Linked DNA regions of Homo sapiens: region 1 is linked to region 2. The links come from fine-mapping of genetic effects on gene expression. A gene starts in region 2. The other region holds a variant in brackets. All regions are shown on one strand. Distances are between the middles of the regions. Region 1 overlaps KCNS3 (potassium voltage-gated channel modifier subfamily S member 3). Region 2 holds the start of KCNS3 (potassium voltage-gated channel modifier subfamily S member 3).

The links. PIP is the estimated chance that this variant, and not a neighbour inherited with it, causes the effect.
Region 1: its variant is the best candidate, but not a certain one, in a credible set for the expression of KCNS3 in aorta (GTEx, PIP 0.58).

What each region holds. Positions count from the first base shown.
Region 1 is chr2:17,903,936-17,913,206 of GRCh38, forward strand. All of the region lies in intron 1 of KCNS3 (potassium voltage-gated channel modifier subfamily S member 3), which reads left to right. Among named protein-coding and RNA genes, the nearest start is that of KCNS3, 30 kb to the left of the region's middle. The variant C/T (reference allele first, on the strand shown) is at 4,412.
Region 2 is chr2:17,874,122-17,883,392 of GRCh38, forward strand. It overlaps KCNS3 (potassium voltage-gated channel modifier subfamily S member 3), which reads left to right and starts at 4,546. Exons shown (of 3, transcript NM_002252.5): 1 at 4,546-4,685. It overlaps LOC124907737 (a long non-coding RNA gene), which reads right to left and starts at 2,441. Exons shown (of 2, transcript XR_007086226.1): 1 at 1,244-2,441. RefSeq lists silencers at 4,157-4,316, 4,327-4,526, 4,617-4,666.

The DNA.
Region 1 (9,271 bases), 30 kb after region 2:
ATAGCAGCATGATTTATAATCCTTTGGGTATATACCCAGTAATGGGATGGCTGGGTCAAATGGTATTTCTAGTTCTAGATCCCTGAGGAGTCGCCACACTGACTTCCACAATGGTTGAACTAGTTTACAGTCCCACCAACAGTGTAAAAGTGTTCCTATTTCTCCACATCCTCTCCAGCACCTGTGGTTTCCTGAACTTTTTAATGATTGCCATTGTAACTGGTGTGAGATGGTATCTCATTGTGGTTTTGATTTGTATTTCTCTGATAGCCAGGGATGATGAGCATTTTTTCATGTGTCTTTTGGCTGCATAAATGTCTTCTTTTGAGAAGTGTCTGTTCATATCCTTCGCCCACTTGTTGATGGGGTTGTTTGTTTTTTTCTTGTAAATTTGTTGGAGTTCTTTGTATATTCTGGATATTAGCCCTTTGTCAGATGAGTAGATTGCAAAAATGTTCTCCCATTCTGTAGGTTGCCTGTTCACTCTGATGGTAGTTTCTTTTGCTGTGCAGAAGCTCTTTAGTTTAATTAGATCCCATTTGTCAATTTTGGCTTTTGTTGCCATTGCTTTTGGTGTTTTAGACATGAAGTCCTTGCCCATGCCTATGTCCTGAATGGTATTGCCTAGGTTTTCCTCTAGGGTTTTTATGGTTTTAGGTCTAACATTTAAGTCTTTAATCCATCTTGAATTAATTTTTGTATAAGATGTAAGGAAGGGATCCAGTTCCAGCTTTCTACATATGGCTAGCCAGTTTTCCCAGCACCATTTATTAAATAGGGAATCCTTTCCGCATTTCTTCTTTTTGTCAGGTTTGTCAAAGATCAGATGGTCGTAGATGTGTGGTATTATTTCTGAGGGCTCTGTTCTGTTCCATTGGTCTATATCTCTGTTTTGGTACCAGTACCATGCTGTTTTGGTTACTGTAGCCTTGTAGTATAGTTTGAAGTCAGGTAGCGTGATGCCTCCAGCTTTGTTCTTTGGGCTTAGGATTGTCTTGGTAATGCGGGCTCTTTTTTGGTTCCATATGAACTTTAAAGTAGTTTTTTCCAATTCTGTGAAGAAAGTCATTGGTAGCTTGATGGGGATGGCATTGAATCTATAAATTACCTTGGGCAGTGTGGCCATTTTCACAATAATGATTCTTCCTATCCATGAGCATGGAATGTTCTTCCATTTGTTTGTATCCTCTTTTATTTCATTGAGCAGTAGTTTGTAGTTCTCCTTGAAGAGGTCCTTCACATCCCTTGTAAGTTGGATTCCTAGGTATTTTATTCTCTTTGAAGCAAGTGCGAATGGGACTTCACTCATGATTTGGCTCTCTGTTTGTCTGTTATTGGTGTATAAGAATGCTTGCGATTTTTGCACATTGATTTTGTATCCTGAGACTTTGCTGAAGTTGCTTATCAGCTTAAGGAGATTTTGGGCTGAGATGATGGGGTTTTCTAAATATACAATCATGTCATCTGCAAACAGGGACAATTTGACTTCCTCTTTTCCTAATTGAATACCCTTTATTTCTTTCTCCTGCCTGATTGCCCTGGCCAGAATTTCCAACACTATGTTGAATAGGAGTGGTGAGAGAGGGCATCCCTGTCTTGTGCCAGTTTTCAAAGGGAATGCTTCCAGTTTTTGCCCATTCAGTATGATATTGGCTGTGGGTTTGTCATAAATAGCTCTTATTATTTTGAGATACATCTCATCAATGCCTAATTTATTGAGAGTTTTTAGCATGAAGGGCTGTTGAATTTTGTCAAAGGCCTTTTCTGCATCTATTGAGATAATCATGTGGCTTTTGTCTTTGGTTCTGTTTATATGCTGGATTACGTTTATTGATTTGCATATGTTGAACCAGTCTTGCATCCCAGGGATGAAGCCCACTTGATCATGGTGGGTAAGCTTTTTGATGTGCTGCTGGATTTGGTTTGCCCGTATTTTATTGAGGATTTTTGCATCGATGTTCATCAAGGATATTGGTCTAAAATTCTCTTTTTTTGTTGTGTCTCTGCCAGGCTTTGGTATCATGATGATGCTGGCCTGATAAGATGAGTTAGGGAGGATTCCCTCTTTTTCTATTGATTGGAATAGTTTCAGAAGGAATGGTACCAGCTCCTCCTTGTACCTCTGATGAATTCGGCTGTGAATCCGTCTGGTCCTGGACTTTTTTTGGTTGGTAGGCTATTAATTATTGCCTCAATTTCAGAGCCTGTTATTGGTCTATTCAGGGATTCAACTTCTTCGTGGTTTAATCTTGGGAGGGTGTATGTGTCCAGGAATTTATCCATTTCTTCTAGATTTTCTAGTTTATTTGCATAGAGATGTTTATAGTATTCTCTGATACTAGTTTGTATTTCTGTGGGATCGGTGGTGATATCCCCTTTGTCACTTTTTATTGTGTCTATTTGATTCTTCTCTCTTTTCTTCTTTATTAGTCTTGCTAGCGGTCTATCTATTTTGTTGATCTTTTCAAAAAACCAGCTCCTGGATTCATTGATTTTTTGAAGGGTTTTTTGTGTCTCTATCTCCTTCAGTTCTTCTGTGATCTTAGTTATTTCTTGCCTTCTGCTAGCTTTTGAATGTGTTTGCTCTTGCTTCTCTAGTTCTTTTAATTGTGATGTTAGGTTGTCAGTTTTAGATGTTTCCTGCTTTCTCTTGTGGGCATTTAGTGCTGTAAATTTCCCTCTACACACTGCTTTAAATGTCCCAGAGATTCTGGTATGTTGTGTCGTTGTTCTCATTGGTTTCAAAGAACATCTTTATTTCTGCCTTCATTTCATTATGTACCCAGTAGTCATTCAGGAGCAGGTTGTTCAGTTTCCATGTAGTTGAGTGGTTTTGAGTGAGTTTCTTAATCCTGAGTTCTAGTTTGATTGCACTGTGGTCTGAGAGACTGTTTGTTATAATTTCTGTTCTCTTACATTTGCTGAGGAGTCCTTTACTTCCAACTATGTGGTCAATTTTGGAATAAGTGTGATGTGGTGCTGCGAAGAATGTATGTTCTGTTGATATGTGGTGTAGAGTGCTGTAGATGTCTATTGGGTCTGCTTGGTGCAGAGCTGAGTTCAATTCCTGGATATCCTTGTTAACTTTCTGTCTCGTTGATCTGTCTAATGTTGACAGTGGGGTGTTAAAGTCTCCCATTATTAGTGTGTGGGAGTCTAAGTCTCTTTGTAGATCTCTAAGGACTTGCTTTATGAATCTGGGTGCTCCTATATTGGGTGCATATATATTTAAGATAGTTAGCTCTTCTTGTTGAATTGATCCTTTTACCATTATGTAATGGCCTTCTTTGTCTCTTTTGATCTTTGTTGGTTTAAAGTCTGTTTTATCAGAGACTAGGATTGCAACCACTGGTTTCTTTTGCTTTCCATTTGCTTGGTAGATCTTCCTCCATCCCTTTATTTTGAGCCTATGTGTGTCTCTGCACGTGAGATGGGTCTCCTGAATACAGCGCACTGATGGGTCTTGACTCTTTGTCCAATTTGCCAGTCTGTGTCTTTTAATTGGAACATTTAGCCCATTTACATTTAAGGTTAATATTGTTATGTGTGAATTTGATCCACTCCTTATGATGTTAGCTGGTTATTTTGCTCGTTAGTTGATGCAGTTTATTCCTAGCATCGATGATCTTTACAATTTGTCATGTTTTTGCAGTGGCTGGTACTGGTTGTTCCTTTCCATGTTTAGTGCTTCCTTCAGGAGCTCTTGTAAGGCAGGCCTGGTGGTGACAAAATCTCTCAGCATTTGCTTGTCTGTAAAGGATTTTATTTCTCCTTCGCTTAAGAAGCTTAGTTTGGCTGGATATGAAATTCTGGGTTGAAAATTCTTTTCCTTAAGAATGTTGAATATTGGCCCCCACTCTCTTCTGGGTTGTAGAGTTTCTGCTAAGAGATCCGCTGTTAGTCTGATGGGTTTCCCTTTGTGGGCAACCCGACCTTTCTCTCTGGCTGCCCTTAACATTTTTTCCTTCATTTCAACTTTGGTGGATCTGACAATTGTGTGTCTTGGAGTTGCTCTTCTCGAGGAGTATCTTTGTGGCATTCTCTGTATTTCCTGAATTTGAATGTTGGCCTACCTTTCTGGGTTGGGGATGTTCTCCTGGATAATATCCTGCAGAGTGTTTTCGAACTTGGTTCCATTCTCCCCGTCACTTTTAGGTACACCAATCAGACGTAGATTTGGTCTTTTCACATAGTCCCATATTTCTTGGAGGCTTTGTTCATTTCTCTTTACTCTTTTTTCTCTAAACTTCTCTTCTCACTTCATTTCATTCATTTAATCTTCAATCACTGATACCCTTTCTTCCAGTTGATTGAATCGGCTACTGAAGCTTGTGCATTCGTCATGTAGTTCTCGTGCCATGGTTTTCAGCTCCGTCAGGTCATTTAAGGACTTCTCTACCCCGATTATTCT[C/T]GTTAGCCATTCTTCTAATCTTTTTTCAAGGTTTTTAGCTTCTTTGCCATGGGTTCGAACTTCCTCCTTTAGCTCGGAGAAGTTTGATCGTCTGAAGCCTTCTTTTCTCAACTCGTCAAAGACATTCTCCATCCAGCTTTGTTCCGTTGCTGGCGTGGAGCTGCATCCCTATGGAGGGGGAGAGGTACTCTGATTTTTAGAATTTTCAGTTTTTCTGCTCTGTTTTTTCCCCATCTTTGTGGTTTTATCTACCTTTGGTCTTTGATAATGGTGACGTACAGATGGGGTTTTGGTGTGGATGTCCTTTCTGTTTGTTAGTTTTCCGTCTAGCAGTCAGGACCCTCAGCTGCAGGTCTGTTGGAGTTTGCTAGAGGTCCACTCCAGACCCTATTTGCCTGGGTATCAGCCGTGGAGGCTGCAGAACAGCGAATATTGCTGAACAGCAAATGTTGCTGCCTGATCGTTCCTCTGGAAGCTTTGTCTCAGAGGGGTACCCGGCCGTGTGAAGTGTCAGTCTGCCCCTACTGGGGGGTGCCTCCCAGATAGGCTGCTCGGGGGTCAGGGACTCACTTGAGGAGGCAGTCTGTCCATTCTCAGATCTCAAACTCTGTACTGGGAGAACCACTACTCCCTTCAAAGCTGTCAGACAGGGACATTTAAGTCTGCAGAGGTTTCTGCTGCCTTTTGTTTGGCTATGCCCGCCCCAGAGGTGGAGTCTACAGAGGCAGGCAGGCCTCCTTGAGCTGCAGTGGGCTCCACCCAGTTCGAGCTTCTGGGCTGCTTTGTTTACCTACTCAAGCCTCAGCAATGGCGGGCGCCCCTCCCCCAGCCTCGCTGCCACCTTGCAGTTCTATCTCAGACTGCTGTGCTAGCAATGAGTGAGGCTCCGTGGGCGTGGGACCCTCCAAGCCATGCATGGGATATAATCTCCTGGTGTGCTGTTTGCTAAGACCGTTGGAAAAGTGCGGTATTAGGGTGGGAGTGACCTGATTTTCCAGGTGCCATCTGTCACCCCTTACCTTAGCTAGGAAAGGGAATTCCCTGACCCTTTGTTCTTCCCAGGTGAGGCAATGCCTTGCCCTGCTTCGGCTCACACTCGGTAGGCTGCACCCACTGTCCTGCCCCCACTGTCTGACGAGCCCCAGTGAGATGAACCCGGTACCTCAGTTGGAAATGCAGAAATCACTCGTCTTCTGCGTTGCTCATGCTGGGAGCTGTAGACCGGAGCTGTTCCTATTCAGCCATCTTGGAACTGCCCCACCTCGGGTTATTGACATTTTAGATAGGCTAACTGAGGATGTTCTTGTTGAGAAGATATCATTTGAGTGAAGACTTGAGGGAAGTGAGAGGGCAAGCCATGCAGAAGAAAGAGCATTCCAGGCAGAGGGTTCAGCCACTGCAGAGGCCCTGAATTAGGATATGGCTCACTTGGCATGATAAGCATTAGCAAGGAGACCAGGATGACAGATGGGAATGATAGAGGGTGAGAGGAGTAGGAGGTAAGATCAGACAAATGAAGTTAGGGGAGGGTGGATGGTGGGCACTTTGACTCTGAGTAGGATGGAAGCCACTGGAGGGTTGAACATAGGAGGGACATGATGTGATGCACATTTTAACAGGATCTCTAGCTAAAGGATTCTTAATCCTTCCTTTTGCCATGAACCCCTTTGGGAGTCTGAGAAACCCTATGGACCCCTTTTCAGAATAGCGTGTTTAAACACAAAAGATGAAACCTACAGGATGTAAAGGAATCCAGTTATGTTGAAATGCAATTACCAAAATAGTAAAAGCAATTTATGAGTTAGCAATATATTTGCTTATTAATTCTTTAAATAAAATCTAGCAGTAGGTCTATAACTACTGTGATTCCAAAGTAATAATGAGTATAAATGATATTTTGAGATCTCTTCAATAACTCTGATAGGATATGAAGCTATTCATACTTCTATTGGTGTGAAGTCATTGGCACTGCTAATACACACTACCCTGGGCCAATGCCTGCATTTTTAATGGAAGGAATTGCTAAAATTTTAGTTAGAGATTGGTGAAAATAAATATTTTTTTCTGTCTAAATTCAAGGACCTCCTGAATTTCAACACAGACCCCCTACTCTAACTCTTAGGTGAACAGTTTAAATGGAATACAAAAGAGGAGAGGGATGAAGTAATGAAATGTTGCTGTTTCTGTTGTTGTCAGCATATCAGTTGGCACTACTGGAATTCACTGCTTGCCATTTCAGATCACTGGGATTCTTGGTGGATTGGCACACCCAGTGGAAGTGTCTACTTTTTTTTTTTTTAAATGTTCTAGGAAGAGCAGTAACTCCAAGAGGTCTTTATAGTCTCTGATTGGTTCCTTGTGGCTAAATCTTTCAGGAGGCCCGAGGTGTGGTCCTTTTGTAGCCGCAGATTCTCTGTGTGGCCACAGGCAATCAATCCATTCTCCTCTCCCATAGACATCTCTTACTTTGGTATTCCTAATTCACAAAGATGTGGATAGTACAGGCAGAATTCTTCATATTTTAAAAGAAATAATCTGTATAAATAGCTCTAGGTCATAGGCTACTTCCTATAGCCCAAGTCTACCATTTTCTGCTCTCTGTCCATACCACGAGCTTTCCTGCCACCATGCTTTTGTATGTGTTCTTTTCTCTCCTTGGAGAAGAGCCTTCTTACCCTTACCTGGCTCCTTTACTTGTTCATACCTGACTCGCTCTTCAAGGATTATCTCCAAATACTACCTATTCATGTAGCTGTCCCCGCTTCCTTATCTCGAGGGACTCTACCTCTTCTGAACTTCCTCAATACCGTCTCTGTACCTTTTCCCATGCCTGACATACTACTGGACCTTGTATTGCCGTTATTTATTTACCCATTTACCCTCCTTTTTGTTCTTCTCAGCTCCTGTAAGCTTTGAGGGCAAGATCCATGTTATCTTTTGTCCTTGGTAGTTCCCAGGATACTGCCTGTCATAAAGCAGCCATGAATGAATAGCATTAGCTCAGGATAGTGGAGGGCTTTGGCTGGGGGCTGGGGATCCTTTCTCATGTGAATCTATAAGTTCATTTGATATCTATCTCATTCCCCTTTTCCTCTGCCCAGATGCTGACTGGAGCTGCTTATGACCTTTTATTTTTCTATGTAGAAATAACTATTTTCATAAATATTTTATAATACCTATTTATTTAAAGTAAGAAATGTACACAATGTTGAGATGTAGAGAGTAGAAAGCAAAATCACTCCAAATTCCATTATCCAGAGACAATGAATTTAACATTTTGGTATATATTCTCATTTACTCTAAAAAGACATATTTTACAAAGATAGGATCATGCTATATATTGCGTCATAATTATTTCTCTTTTGTACTTAGCATATTGTGACTTTTTAATGGTTTTACATGCAGTAGAGCTGTAGTAGCTAAGAGAATGGCTTTGAAGAATTATTGTTTGGATTCGAATCATGGAGTTGTCACTTAATAGCTGTTGACTCCCTAAAATCAGTTAACTTCTCTATTTACCAGTTTCTCCATCTGCAAAACGAATGCAATAAAAACACCACTTGTCTGAGTGCTGCAAGGATTAAATGGATTTAGACATGTAAAAAGCACAGGGCCAGACTTAGTATAAGGAAGCTGTAACTTCTGTAACTTTTATTATTTCAGCATTTTTAATGGCTACAGAGTATTCATTGCATGGCTACCCCCAGTCTATTTAATCATTCCTCTATTGATGGACGTGCAGGCTGTCTTTGACATTTCACTCTTACAAATAATGATGCAGTGAACAACCTTGTACATGCATCTTTCAACGCTTGTCTGATTTATTTCTTCAGGACACATGCCAAAATGTGAAACCCTGGGATTTTGTGATACACATTGCTATGATGTCCTCCAGAAAGGTTTCTTTAAGAAGTTTTCACTGCTATCATTGTATGATACTTTCCTGCTCACTCCAAAGCTGCTTGCTTTCAGTTCCTCTTTATCGGCCTGTGTTAGTGCAGTTGTTTGATGCATTCAAATGGGACAGCCCTAGCCTCTGTCTCCAGCTAGCCATGCGGTAGGGAGATGACTACAAGGTGGATGGAGCCAGTGCAGTTCCTTTCTGTGGCCAGGAGCAGTTGCATGGACCACTCAGAGTGACCCTAGAGCCCTGTCAACACTCAGTGACTGTGTTGTACTTCCTTCTATGAGGTGCACACCCTTCCGCAGGGAAGCGCCTGGTCTGCCTGTCTCTCCTTTCCTTTCTCTAGATTTTCTTGCCAAGGCAACACAGCTGCGTCCCTGCTGCCTCCCCTCCATTCCCCAGGGGGAGGTTGTCTAGAAACATAGAGCAGGAGGAAAGGAAGGTGGTATTTAGTTACCCATGCATCAAGTCTTGGGATTCCTGCAGTTGGTATGGCATTTACTCACTCTGAATGACCAAGAAAAATATAATTTATACTAACCTTTCAAAAATAATTTAGAGACTTTGCTTTAGAAAGCACTTACTGGTTTGTCCCTGAATATATTAGACCCTGAGAAGTTTTCATTTTCTTTTAGGGACAGATTTTTAAAAATCATGTTAATTCAAGGATTTGCCATATTAACTTAAGGTACTTCTTGAAATTTGACAGTTAAATTTGGACAGAGTTAGTAGTGGAGGGATATTCTTAGTCATGCCCTGTCTGAATCAACTGGAAGATGTTTGATTCTGATTGCTTTGGATTATAGGATTTAAATATCAGTACATTTTTTTTCTAGCACACTAAATCCAATTATGGCAGTATGATTATGATATTTTAATTTTATTTAATTAAACACTGGGTGACAGTTTTCAATAGTTAAGCCAGATAGAGGTAGGGTTGGATTTCACCTTTTGTT
Region 2 (9,271 bases):
GAGAATGGGTGACATATACTGGATCCTGGAGATTAAGCAGGCATTTTCCGGTGGAGAAGGAAACACTATAGGAACGAGGCACCAGAAAGGCAAGACTCAGATGGCATGCAGTGAGCATAGAGGAGAGATGGGCCACTTCTGTCGGGCTGGAATGTGAGGAAAGTGCAGAGGAGAGGGGAGGGGAGGTGGTGATGAATGAGTAAGGCAGAGAGAAAGGTGTGAAGAGCTTGAAATGTGGTAAAAAATCAAGTTGTGACCAGAGTATGAGCAATCTGGAAGGCCATCCCTGGAAATATTTTCATGGGCTAACTTCTCAGACAGAGCCTTTCCTATACTAGAGTGTTATGAGGACCTGCCAGTGTGATGGAGTAAACACCTTCCTTTCCGTGCCTAGGGTCAGGCACAGGTGTTCTGTGGCACTCACCTTGGGCAATACTCAAGGGCCTTCAGAGGGTGATTCTGAGTACCTGAGGACAGCATTCCTTTGTGCCTGGAGACATAGCCTGTCACAGGGTTTTTTCTTTCTTTAATAATTTATAAAGTGTCTCCTTTTATCTATAGAAACATAAAGCTTTTAGACCTGGCAAGGGCCTTAAAGATGATATAGTCCCAACCCAAATGTAGGGCCCAAGAGGAAATATCACTGAGGTAATCAGGGACAGAGCTGAATCAGAATTCAAGTCTTTGTACTTGAAGATCATAAAGATTTAAGGAATTTTTCTTTTTCTTTTCTTTTTCTTTTTTTTTTAGACAGGGTCTCTCTCTGTCACCCAGGCTGGAGGGCAATGGCACCATCTCTGCTCACTGCAACCTCCACATCCCAGGTTCAAATAATCCTCCTGCCTCAGCCTCCCAACTAGCTGGGACTACAGGCATGCACCACCATGCCTGGATAATTTTTGTATTTGTTATATAGGCAGGGTTTTGCCATATTGCCAAGGCTGGTCTTGAACTCCTGGACTCAAGCAATCTACCCGCCTTGGCCTTCCAAAGTGCTAGGATTACAGATGTGAGCCACTGCACCCGGCCTTAAGAAACTTTTGATATAAAAATAATACCACAGGGCAGTTAGAGTAAGCATACAATAATTTTGTGAAAAGAGCATGATCATTGTAGCAATAATCTGAAATAAAAACATTCTAGCTGATTGAGAACTAAATTTAATTTAATGTAAATTTAGTTCTGAGCTTCCTGGCAGCCAAGCAAAGACAGCGATATGATGGTTTACATGTTTTATTTTTACCTGGCAAAAGGTAGCGTAGAAATAAGGGATTTAGGTTTTGACTAGGATCAGATGAAACTGGGCAGCCTTCAGTAATTCACTTCACAAACATGCAGATCCAACAGAAGTTCCTGGAAATTCAGTCTTCAAGGAGCTTATTGTCTAGTGGAAGACAAACAGTTAAAATCCCATATGGTAGATTCTATGAAAGTGGGAGGCAAAGGCTGCTGAGGGAGTGTGGAAAGGAAACACACAACACACAACCCAGGATGAGAGAGGCGGCTTCCCAGAGGGTCGTGATTATGATGTGATTATCCACTGAATCTCATCCTAAGGGAGAAGGGGTCTGTTGGGCAAAGCAAAGCTTGGTGATGGGGAACTGTGTTCTTAGCTGAGGAGGCACTGCTGTGCATTCAGAGAGTCAAGAAAAAGCATGGTGGGTCTGGGGAGTTGCAGGTGTTTCATGTGCTCAGACTAACTGGAGTGATATTCAGGCAGCTGGGTAGAAAGTGGCAAGTGAGAGGCACACACCAAATAAACGCTGCTCATTATGACTATACCCCTCACTCCCAACCTTCCTGCCAGAGATGAGCACATCTTCATTTTCACCTGCAGACCTGTTCCAATTTAAGAAGCTAATGAGCACTTCCCTTTCCTTCAGGACTAAGGCAAGTACTAATCTAGCTGATTTCTGTCATTTGAACTTTAGTGAGAATAAAAAGTCGGGGACAGGTTTGGCTCTGGGGAGGGAAGGGAAGACATGGATGTGTGATAGGTGGGTAAGAGAGGGAGACCTCCAAACGAGGCCTGGAAGACAGACTGAAATGCATCCCACATTAGTGGCATGTGTCTCCATCCACTCCAGGAGTCCTCTGAAACCACAGAGGAGTGAGCATTATTGTCAACGATGATTAAATGATTGACCCCTCACAGATTAAATGCATGGTTTATCTAGATGTTTCTCTATAGGCACAGTTAATTAAGAGGGAACGGGATGTCATATCGGGAGGCATAAAGACTGGGCAGGAAGTGGGTGTGTGGGGAAAAGGAGGCAGTTAGTTCACAGCATGCCCCCGGTAATGGAGACTGGGGTTGGGGAAGGGGCTACATACCGTGTGTGTGAATTTACCACTTTGCCTAGCTCAACCTTGGTCAACATTCAAGAGTAAACTTTTGGGGAGCAGACCTGCCTCAGGGGTCATCCGATGTGGTCCTTTTTATTATTTCATTGGCTTCACATGATTACCCTGGGAGAGAGGAAATTTCCTTACAGATGACAAAATCAGGGCTGAAAGACGAAGTGGCTCCCTGCAGGGCTCAGCAGGGTAAGAAGTCCTGTCTGTCTCTGTCTCAGATCTGTGGCCCTTCTCTGTGCCCACTCCTACATGCCCACCGTGGAGGCCCACCCCTTCTGTCCTCAGCTCCTGCAGATGCACAGGGGCCCTTACTGGCTCCCACTGTGTGTGCCTTCCCGACTGCTCACATGTTCCGCCCAGACCCCAGGAGAAAGACCTCACTGCCAACTCTTCTGCACTGCAGGTGCCTTCTGCAGTGCTTAGAGATTCTGAACATATTTCCTTCTCAAGTAAACCATGCTGGACTTTTTGGATAAACTTAGTGATTTTAAAATGATTAAATAGGTAACTGCTGGGAGAGATCTGGAAGCATTCTTCTAAGGTGTTGATAAAATGTAAATATATTTTTAGAACAATCTTAGAGCTTATGCTAAAGATGAACTATGTAAGAAAGTTACCTTCTTCAGCCACTTGTAAATAGCAGTGTGGACCAATGCTTTGGATCCTCTTCCACAGGAGAGGAGACAAGATTGGAGGAACCAAAGAACCATGGAATTAGGGACAAATGGCTCAGAACAGTGCTCTGCAGACACATGCATCTGTACTTTGCTTCCCAGAAGCCAAATGAAACTGTTGGAGCTTGGTGGGCTCCAGGCCTCAGGGGGAAGACCACCCTAGGCTTTATCTTTTCCTCTGCCCTTCCTGCCTGCTGTTAGCCTCTCCTCTGGACCAAAACTCCCTTTAAGGGGAAAACCTCCTCTTTGAAGCCCACAAGATACGGTGAGGATTACTGCCTTTTTCTGATTTCCAACGTGGGTTTTTCATTAAGCAAAGAACAATTAGAAAACCCACACATAACATAGGGTATTCAGTAAGTTCAGGAAAGTGTTTTCCACCATCTCTTTGCCCCCATTCCCTCCCCAGCGCTTGGCTCAAGGTCTGGAGCTTGAATCTGCATCGTCTTCCTAGGTGCTTGCCTGAGGTGAGTGGTCAGCGGGTGCTGGCTTGGGGGCAGCTGGCAGGGCGTATGCTGCGGGTAGGAACCCAGGGAACACTGGGCGCCTTAGCTTGGAGCAGCTGGCTCCGAGGAATTGTTCCACGTCTGCACAACTTAAAAATCTGCAGTTTGGGGGCGGGAGGGGGAGCGCGGGGGTGGGTCCCGAAGCGTCCCATTTCTCCTCCTGGCTGTTAACTGAGCGCTCTCGCTCAGTGCAGCGAGGCCAGCGATGCCTTCTGGACCACACGCTGTCCTCGCCGAGGTCCTGGTTTGTTCCTCAACGTCGGCTGAAGGCATCGTCCCCTGACTTCCTCTTCCATTCGTCCTTCCGAAAGGGGACCCGACTGGTTCCTCTTCTACATATGAGGCGCATCTGCTTGGTGCAAATGTCCAAGCACCTCTTCTGACTCGGTGAGTGGAGGAATAAGACAAAGCATCTTGTTCTGCACTGTGCCTGAGTCTTCAGGCAGCGGGACCGATGGCAAACATTGGCAGGAACTGGAGCTATATGTACTCTCCTTCGCACTTTGTTTTAAAACAAGTTTGGGCCTCGCGATTTCCTGAGGAAATCCAGGCAAATTAGCAAAGTGTCGCTTGGGCCGCGACTTTAGAAAGGCGGTTGCCCCAGCCGCCGGGGCCGCGGGGGAGGTCATCTTTTTCCCGCAGGGCCACGGCGCTTCCGGCCCAGGAGGGCGCGCAGGTGGGAGGCGCGGGGCGCGCTCCTGGTCCCACCCGGACAGCGCCTGCCGCTCCGGGGTGACTCTGCACTTGGGCCTGGGCGGGGGCGCGCGGCCGGCAGGGCAGCATCTAGGTCTATGGGTCTGTCCGCCTGTCTGGCGGTCGGAGCCCCGCAGTCCTCAGCCGCCCGCGCCCTCGGCCCGGGGCGCCCGGCTGCGGGCCCGAAGCGAGGGGCTGGCGGAGCTGCGACCAATGGGGCGGCGGCCGAGCGGCGGGCCCCGCCCCGTCCCGTCCGGCCCCGCCCCGCCCGCAGCTCCCGGGAGCCTCGCTCTAGCGGGGCGGGACCGACGGACAGACCGGCCGACGCGGGCCACCCCGCTCTCCTCGCCGCCGCGGCGGCAGGCGCGGGGCCGCGCCGCGAGGCCTGATCCCTGCAGCGCGGGCAGGCGGCGTCGCAGAGCGGAGCTAGCTGGATGCGTCCGGACTCCTGCAGGTACCTGGCTGGCGTCCCCACCTCCCTGCGCGCTCCGGAGACTTCTCCGGGCGACCCTGCAACTTTACCGCGCCTTCCCCCACCTTTTGCTGCCCCAGTCTCCTGTGGTCCAGGTCGCGGGTGCACGACCCCGAGGGTCTACGGCCGCAGAGCACTTTCCGTCCTTCTGGGCGTCTGGCCCGCGGCGCCCGCATCCTCTGGTCCCCAGAGCCCGCCGTCGCTGGAGCCCTAAGGCTCCGCCTGTTGCGTGAACTGCGGGCTGTTGAAGCGGTGGCTGGGTTGATTTGAAAGCCTCGGGGAAGGTATTTAGGATCAGCTTTCGGGGAGTGGGGTGGGCTATGGTCAGGGGGAGGACCACCTGGAGGCGGGAGAATCGATGAGCCGAAGAAAGGCGGCACCTCGCGTAGGGGCATCCCCGGGGCGTTTCCTTGGCCGGGAAGCCGTTCCTTCCCTTCCTCGAGAGGAGGCGCTTTCCTGGCGCTTGTAAATGCTTCCCGGGCCGTCTGCTCCGCCTTCTTTGTCATTCCTCCCCTCCCCTTTGCCCTGCAGCTGTGCTAGGCGCCCCGCGACAGTTGCAGGGAAGAGCGAACCCAGGGCCCTTGCTCTCGTGCAGCGCTGCGCCCTGGGTGGGGACGGCGTGAGGCTTGCAGCGCAGGTGTGGAGTCACTTGCGGACTCTGCGTTTGGATCAGTGGCAGTGGTGGGGAAGGGTCACCCCGGGGTCAGGAACTCCTCTTTTTTTTTTCGCGCCTTTCTGGGTGGCTGCCCGACCTCCTGAGGCACCTTGGCTAGCAAGCGAGCCAGTCTTGCCGGCAGGGGCCGCGGCGAGCCTGGCTGGGCGCCTTTCGCATTGCAGGGCTTGTCCTGCACCCCCAACCCCGCTCTGTCCCTTCTCGTTCATTTGGAGAAAGGAGCACCTTTTGCATTCTTGATGTCTCCCCCCGGTTTTGTCTGGGGAGACCGAGCCGAAAGCTTCACTCGGGTGGCCCGCAGCAGGGGCAGAGGACAGCAAAGAGCTACCTCCACCTGCCAAAATGACCCAGGGGCCCTGGTTTGGTGCCAAGGCGTGAAGTGGGGGGAGGGGCGGTAGGTGTTCCTTACGTTCCTGCCGGAGAGTAGCTTTGTGGTTGGCCCGGAGCCTTCGTTCGGGTTTTTTGTCTTTCACCCTACCCTCTGAAAATACTGGAGCAGATGAGTACAAACAGTTCAGAAGCCTTTCCTGTTTCTTTCCCTGTATTTACTCAAGCGATTTGCGTAACCATTCACTTGGAACTGTGTAAGTCACTCCTAGTTGCCCCCCTTCTTAGACTATTTGCAAATACCTGCCCAGGTAAACAGGAAGCACGCACCTATCTCTTAGCTGAAGGCATATGCCCTCGTGCTTTGTCTTCCCTGCATATCTGGAGCCGAAGAGGTGGCTTTGATTCTCTAGCTGAACTTGGTGTAATGTGCAGGCTCCACTTCTTACCTGGGTGGTGACCTTCTTGAGGAGATTGACTCGTTCAGTATGCATTTCCAACCAGCCCGCCATGGGCCAGGCCCCAGGATGCACTCGGGGACAGACAGCAAATGGATGATATAATTTCTGCACCCAGTCTAGTCTGTTCTTTCTTTCTCACCAGCTTCCCTTCTTCTCTTGTTCTAATATTATGTTTGTCGTTTCTGAACTAGGAATTGTCAATATTGGGATCCGGAGAAGGTCATATGAAGGTGCCATAGAACTCTGAATCCAAAGCATGTTGTGAATATACTAAGGAGACTTGCGGGATCAGTATTAATTGAATCTTTTGTCTGACCCATAATTGCCTGAATAGAGCCATTGATGAATGCAGCTACGCTAAGGTTTTGCTGGTCAAGTGTATGAGGGCAAATTGGGAGGTCAGAAGCAGTCTTTGTTCTGTTCTGAAATATTATAATATTAAAAATCCAAAGCTCTGGAGCTTGAGTTTGCCAGCAAAGCACCAACTGAGTATCATCATCTTCTTTTAAGAAGGAAGGGGGAGAGTGGGAACTGCAGCTCCCTCCTGTCTTCAGTGGGTTTTGCCCTTCACTGTAATTCTTCACAGACGTGCATCCCTCTGTTCTACCACCCATCTCAATCTGCCCTGTGTCTGGCATTTGCCATTGGAATGTGTGTCAGCTTTGAGAGAGTAGGCACCACAGGGTTTTCCTCCTCCTTTTCCTTCTATTTTTTAATAGATAACATTTATTAGCTGCATACTATATATCAGATACTCTGCTAGGCACTTTTCCAGGCATTATCTCATTTAATTCCCATAACAACTGCATGAGGATGTGATGCTTGCTTTCTTCACTGCAGTATTGCTGTGGGAGCCAGCAGTAGATGGAACCCCCCAGGTGCATGTTGAGTCAGATGGGAGGCCAGTGGGAAATGGTGGGCCTGAGGTCTCACTAGGAGGAAGGACGACTCTGCAGGGTATGTTGAAGCAGAGAAGGTGGGTGTGTTTATTGACTCTGCTTATCAGGTGTCAGGAAAGTGCATCTTCCAGAGTGCCACCTGTGTGAAATACCCACAAAGAAACATCATAGAGAAGAGAATAGGATGTGGGGACCCAGTTTCCAGCTGTGATATCTATTTCTTTATGGCTCCTTGACTTGACATGTCATTTTGCTAATCTGGGTCTTGGTCTGTTTAGCTGCACTGACCTAGATCTCTAATATTTGTTGTTACGCTGTACTAGGCACTAAAAGCTAAAAGCTTTTACATGTATGAACTCACTTCATCCTGATGACAATCTTAGGATGGTAGGTTCTATTATCACCGTATTTTACAGGAGGAAAGAGAGACAAACTGAGTAACTTGTACAAGGTCACCCAGCCCGGAAAAGGTGAAGCTAGGATTCTATCCCTTGCAGTCTGACTGCAGAGCCACTGTGAGATTCAGTTTTCCTCATTTATTCCTACAGTTCCAACACTGTTCCCTGTGCTTAGTGGGATCTCGGACTACATTTGTTGAACAGTGACAGAGGGGGCTTACAGTTACCAAGTGACTTTTGGGTCCCATGTCTCAGCCTTAAAAGGAATCTCAAAGACTGCGTTAGCAAAATATTATTTTTGCCTTTGACAAAATGGTCTGCTTTTCGGTGAAATTCTGCCCAGCTGGTTAGGAAAAAAGGAAGATAAACCATAAAGATCATGGGCCAGGGAAACATTATGGTGAGTTTCAGAAAATGTGTTTATCAATATAAGAAATTCAGAAAAACCACAGAACACTTTGTACTCCGACGCAAATTTGTCAAGTAAATCAACCAGTGACCAATTCACAAGTGCTTATTGTATGGGTGCTAAGTGCCCAGTACTACAGGCAATGAAGGTAGGCAGAATCTATGACATGGTCTCTGAGCTTGAACTTATAGTGGATCTGGAGACTCCAGATCAGTGAGACAAGATAGAACAATACAAGATGCTAAATGTTTAAGTCCTGATAAAAATCACAATGACTCGGTCACATTTGTATAACCTATTGTGGTTTGTAGGAACTTTCACATGGGATATCTCATTCCAGTCCTCAGAGCAACTGAGAGTTATAAGCTATAGGTGGGACAGAAGTTAGGAAGCCCATATTGCTGATGAAGAAATTAAGGCAAACTGAGCCTTGAACTTGGACACAGTCAGGGGTCTTCTGACTTTAAGTCCAGCATCTTTCTGCCTCACTTCTCTCTGGAGCTAGAGAGCAGAACAGGAGGGAGTGAGCTATCGAGAGTCCTTGGGGAGTGGGGAACTGAGTTTGAATTTCATCCTGGACCTGGCCTTTGCTTGCTGGTCTTGACTACTGTGGGTGCTTATTGGAGGCAGGGGATGGGGAGTAAGTACAAGCTGGGGAGGAGGAGAAAGAGGAGAAGAGTGTTGTTGTTTTATTGTTTCAGGGGCCTGCTGTTTTGTGAAGCCTGGAGTGAATACTCAATTATCATGAACATAATAACAAGGCTTAAAATGTACAACAAAATGTAGAAACTGATTTAGAATTTTCATCCCTGTTTTTCTTTATCATTTCTCTAGATCATCTTTTGAAACTTTTTAGCATATCTGCACATTATACTTTTTTTTCACAGTTGTTAAGAGGATCAAAATCTACACATTATAAAAGTAAACTCTTTAATAAGCTAAAATAGTTACTAGGCTAGGTTGTGGTATTTTTCTTGTGGGCAAGAGGTCTCATTCTCTTTGGAATCCTGCACAGCCTTGCACTACGATTTGCTTTGAGGAGATACTGTATAAATATTGTCTTCAGTTGCACAAGTATTGAACGATAAAGGCATAAGATCTGCTTTTAGCCAATAATGTTACAGTTAAGCAGTTAATGTTGGCAGCAGCCAGCCTCAGTGAGTTTGGTGAAGTGCCAAATGAATGAAGTATCTTGCTGAGTATTCTACTAATCAGCCATCCGAGGACTTACCAGATGCTCACCAAAGGTGACATAATGATTAACTTATATAGTCACATATATGTATTCTCATTATATATTCAAATCCGTGCATACATTCATTCAACAAGTATTTGAGTACTTACATGATGTTATGTACTATGCTAGGTGCTGGGTATACTGTGGTAAAGGAAACGGTGGGG